Linked DNA regions of Homo sapiens: region 2 is linked to region 1. The links come from fine-mapping of genetic effects on gene expression. A gene starts in region 1. The other region holds a variant in brackets. All regions are shown on one strand. Distances are from middle to middle.

Region 1 (2,754 bases):
CTGCAGAACTGCAGAAGAATAAATTTCTGTTGTTTAAAGCCACGCAGTCGTAGTAATGTGTTGTGGCCTCCCTAGGAAATTAACACAGTTGTGTTACATTTTGAGACATAGATAGCCCTCAACCGATCCTGTTAACCAGATGATAATCTTCAGCAATGCTCTTACCTGTTCTCACAGTAGGAGAGGAAAGACAAACAGGTTTCATCCACAGTGCCCATGGATTGCATCAGAATCATCCAAACTGTTCTCCTTGCTTCCTGCTCTGACCTCTTCCAGCCTGTTCACAACCAAGCACCTGGAGTGATCCCTGGAGGCTCCAAATCCTTCAGGGACTTTACGTGTCATGGACAATAAAAGCCAAAGGACTTCCAGTGCCCCACTATCCCACATGCAGCCTGAACCTCTATTATCTCTCTTACCATACTTCCCACTCTTCTAGCTATTCACTGCCTCTGCTCTAATCACTGCTTTTCTTTGAATACATCACGCACAGTCTTGCTGTATGGTCTTTGCACAAACTGTGCCCTCCGTCTGAACGGCTCCTCCAAAAATAGCTGCCTGGCTAACTCCAACATCTTTCTCAACTATTGCTTTCCAATGAGGGCTACTCTGACCATGCTATTGTAAAGTGCAATCCAATACCCCATGCCCAGCACTGTGGATCTCCCTTGTCCTGCTATATTTTTCCATGGCATTTATTGCCTTCTAACATACCATATATTTTATTATGTGATGTTTAGTGTCACCCTTTCGTCATCCTGTGAAAAATCTACCCTCACAGGGTGAAGATTCTTGACTCTTTCATTCATTAACAAATTTTAGGAACACAGAACAGTGTCTGGTTCACAGTTAGTGCCCTACAAGTTTTGCTGAATGAATGAATAAGGGTAATGTGTATATCAGAGTAATGTAAGCATAACCAGGTAAGCGATGAGTACATGGTAGCAATGATCATAAAAGGATTCTATTATAAATTATCACTGGACTAAAAATGGCAGTCCTAGTACACAAGACACGTACTTGCCATCACTAAAACATTGCCTACCCACATGATGCCCTCTCTCCACAAAATTGATCCCTGGTGAGGAGTAACTATTGACCGCCCACTGAGTGGTGACTCCTTATGCTAAGCACCACGAATACAAGGGCAGGAGCAGGATTTTTGGTTGCACAGCCGGTGTTTCAGGCACCCATCCTCCCAGGGAACCCAAGAGAAGAGCCCTGTATCTCCTTAGTAAATGCAGAACCCAAGCTCCCAAGCCATTTTCCCCAGGCCATCCTAATGGCTCCCTCAGCCTTGATGGGAGAAGCCACGATGTTCCCACCCATCGCCTTTTAGTAGCCACAAGAACCTGCCCGCCCACCCACTGCACGCCCATTGGTTGGACAGTGGTAGAGGCGGGCCCTGACGAGCGCATGCTCAGAGGGAGAAGTCAGCGGAGAAGCTGGGAGCTCCTTTGGAGGCTGCGGTGTCCCTGACTCTCCTGAGGGGGGCTCACTAACGGGTGGGTCCCATGCCACAGTGTCTGAGGAGAAGCAGGAAGTGAGTCCCTGAGGAGACGCCGTGACCTGAGGGCTTCCCTTACTGAGGAGGCCTCGTGCTTCATCTGCCACAAGCGGTGCCCAGGCCGGTGGTGACAACTGGGACGATGCTCAGGCTTCTGAGACTTGCTTTGGCCTTCTACGGGAGGACGGCCGACCCTGCAGAGCGACAGGGCCCACAGCAGCAGGGCCTCCCACAAGGTATTCCTCTGTGTGTCCCCTTGTCCCCCACCCCAGAAGCCTCCCAATAGGGGTTCTCCTCACCCCCGGAATGAGGCTGTTGTAACTCGGGTGGGTACTGCACGTGACGGTGGCTCCATCTTGTGCGTGCATGGGGAGGCAACCCGAGGCAACCCGAGTCCTCAACAATTCCCTGAGAACCAACCCCCAAACTCTCCTGTCCATCTAAAGCGGGAAGGTGTTGACAGAGAAGACCTTGGGGTCTGTACCGCCTGTGCTTTTCCCCCACGTGGTCGCACAGCACATGCCTATTTATATTTCCAGTAGGCGAGAAACTCCCTAATTTGCGAGTTAATTTAGGCTTGTATCCCAAACGGGAATGTAATTTGAAGCCAAGTTGATGCCTCATACTTATCTGATCCCAAAGGAAGGCAGAGAACCCCTGCCGGCGACTGCTGAGGTTTGATCCCTAAGTATTGCTGATCAGCTAGGCTTGTGCAGAATAAAAAAAAAAGAAGAAGAAGAAGAAGGAGAAATAAAGAAAACCATTCAGATGCCGTTTTGGGCTAGCCTTCAATCTCCAGATATCTTTTAGTACTTTGTCTGCTGAGATGGTTAAGTATCTATAGAAGGTGCTACTCATCATGTTGGTGATAATGATGAAGGAATATAATAGGAGCAGAAGCTTAAAGACTCATATGTAGAAATGCTAACAGGTAACATTTACACACTCTTGTGCAAGGCACTCAGAGCTCTCGACAGTTGATGTGCATGTGTCAGTTAATATTCGTAAGCTGGGCGCGGTGGCTCACACCTGTAATCCCAGCTCTTTGGGAGTTCCAGGTAGGTGGATCACTTGAGGCCAGGAGCTGGAGACCAGCCTGGGCAACATGGCAAAACCCCGTCTCTATTAACAATTCAAAAATTAGCTGGGTGTGACGGTACACACCTGTAGTCCCAGCTACTGGGGAGGCTGAGACATGAGAACCACCTGAACCCAGGAGGCAGAGGTTGCCGCTAGCCCAGATTGCG
Region 2 (2,754 bases), 110 kb before region 1:
GAGAATGAGTTTGACAAATTGACAGCAGTAGGCTTCAGAAGGTGGGTAACAACAAACTCCTCTGAGCTAAAGGAGCATGTTCTAACCCAATGCAAGGAAGCTAAGAACGTTGAAAAAAGGTGAGAGAAATTGCAAACTAGAATAATCAGTTTAGAGCAGAACACAAATGACCTGAAGGAGCTGAAAAACACAGCACGAGAACTTCATGAAGCATACACAAGTATCAATAGCTAAATCGATCAAGCAGAAGAAAGGATATCAGAGATTGAAGATCATTTTAATGAAATAAAGCATGAAGACAAGATTAGAGAAAAAAGAATGAAAAGGAACAAAGCCTCCAAGAAATATGGGACTATGTGAAAAGACCAAACCTACATTTCACTGGTGTACCTGAAAGTGACAAGGAGAATGGAACCAAGTTGGAAAACACTCTTCAGGATATTATCCAGGAGAACTTCCCCAACCTTGCAAGACAGGCCAACATTCAAATTCAGGAAATACAGAGAAAACCACAAAGATATTCCATGAGAAGAGCAACCCAAAGACACATAATTGTCAGATTCACCAAAGTTGAAATGAAGGAAAAAATGTTAAGGGCAGCCAGAGAGAAAGGTCGGACTACCCACAAAGGGAAGCCCATCAGACTAACAGCGGATCTCTTGGCAGAAACCCTACAAGCCAGAAGAGAGTGGGGGCCAATATTCAACATTCTTAAAGGAAAGAATTTTCAACCCAGAAGTTCATATCCAGACAAACTAAGCTTAATAAGCAAAGGAGAAATAAAATCCTTTACAGACAAGCAAATGCTGAGAGATTTTGTCACCACCAGGCCTACCTCACAAGAGTTCCTGAAGGAAGCATTAAATATGGAAAGGAAAAACCGGTACCAGCCACTGCAAAAACATACAAAATTGTAAAGACCATCGACACTATGAAGAAACTGCATCAAGTAATGGGCAAAATAACCAGCTGGCATCATAATGACAGGATCAAATTCACACATAAAAATATTAACCTTAAATGTAAATGGGCTAAATGTCCCAATTAAAAGACAGAGAGTGGCAAATTGGATAAAGAGTCAAGATCCATCACTGTACTGTATTCAGGAGACCCATCTCACGTGCAAAGACACACATAGGCTCAAGATAAAGGGATGGAGAAATATTTACCAAGTAAATGGAAACAAACAAACAAACAGAAAGGGTTGCAATCCTAGTCTCTGATAAAACAGACTTTAAACCAAGAAAGATCAAAAAAGACAAAGAAGGGCGTTACATGATGGTAAAGGGATCAATGCAACAAGAAGAGATAACTATCCTAAACATATATGCACCCAATACAGGAGGACCCAGATTCATAAAGCAAGTTCTTAGAGACTTACAAAGAGATGTAGACTCCCACACAATAATATTGGGAGACTTTAACACCCCACTGTCAATATTAGACAGATCACCAAGACAGAAAATTAACAAGCATATTCAGGACTTGAACTCAGCTCTGGACCAAGCAGACCTAATAGACATCTACAGAACTCTCCACCTCAAATAAACAGAATATACATTCTTCTCAACACCACATCCCACTTATTCTAAAATTGACGACACAATTGG[A/G]AGTAAAATACTCCTCAGTAAACGCGAAATAATGGAAATCATAACAGTCTCTCAGACCACAGTGCAATCAAATTAGAACTCAGGATTAAGAAACTCACTCAAAACCTCACAACTACATGGAAATTGAACAACCTGCTCCTGAATGACTAGTGAGTAAATAACAAAATTAAGGTAGAAATAAATAAGTTCTTTGAAACCAATGAGAACAAAGATACAATGTACCAGAATCTCTGGGACACAGCTAAAGCAGTGTTTAGAGGGAAATTTATAGCACTAAATACCCACAGGAGAAAGCAGGAAAGATCAAAAATTGACACCCTAACATCACAATTAAAAGAACTAGAGAAGCAAGAGCAAACAAATTCAACAGCTAGCAGAAGACAAGAAATAACTAAGATCAGAGCCAAACTGAAGGAGATAGAGACATGAAAAACCCTTCAAAAAATCAATGAATCCAGGAGCTGTTTTTTTGAAAAGATTAACAAAATAGATAGACTGCTAGCCAGACTGATAAAGAAGAAGAGAGAAAAATCAAATAGACACAATAAAAAATGATAAAGGGGATATCACCACTGATCCCACAGAAATACAAACTACCATCAGAGAATACTATAAATACCTCTATGGAAATAAACAACAAAATCTAGAAGAAATGGATAAATTGCTGGACACATACACCCTCCCAAGACTACACAAGGCAGAAGTCGAATCCCTGAATAGACCAATAACAAGTTCTGAAATTTAGGCAGTAATTAATAGCCTACCAACCAAAAAAGCCCAGGACCAGACAGATTCACAGCCGAATTCTACCAGAGGTACAAATAAGAGCTGGTACCCTTCCTTCTGAAACTATTCCAAACAATAGAAAAAGAGGGACTCCTCCCTAACTCATTTTATGAGGTCAGCATCATCCTGATACCAAAACCTGAGACACACACACACACAAAAGAAAATTTCAGGCCAATATCCCTGATAAACATCAATGAAAAAATCCTCAATAAAATACTGGCAAACCGAATCCAGCAGCACATCAAAAAGCTTATCCACCACCTTCAAGTCAGCTTCATCCCTGGGATGCAAGGCTGGTTCAACATATGCAAACCAATAAACATAATCCATCACTTAAACAGTACAAATGACAAAA

Alleles and levels. Positions count from the first base shown, and alleles are read on the strand shown. Sizes are in standard deviations (SD) of each study's normalised expression.
As copies of A replace G in region 2, the expression in cerebral cortex of the gene that starts at base 1,423 in region 1 goes up (moderate effect, 0.68 SD a copy in GTEx).

Evidence for each region. PIP is the estimated chance that this variant, and not a neighbour inherited with it, causes the effect.
Region 2: its variant is fine-mapped to the expression of CT55 in cerebral cortex (GTEx, PIP above 0.99). The same link has a PIP of 0.9 or more in amygdala, anterior cingulate cortex, caudate, hippocampus, hypothalamus and nucleus accumbens.

The regions. Positions count from the first base shown.
Region 1 is chrX:135,170,067-135,172,820 of GRCh38, reverse strand. CT55 (cancer/testis antigen 55) reads left to right here and starts at 1,423. Exons shown (of 6, transcript NM_001031705.3): 1 at 1,423-1,743. The coding sequence starts at 1,650.
Region 2 is chrX:135,278,755-135,281,508 of GRCh38, reverse strand. It overlaps a transcript of ZNF75D not described here. Among named protein-coding and RNA genes, the nearest start is that of ETDA, 28 kb to the right of the region's middle. The variant A/G (reference allele first, on the strand shown) is at 1,611.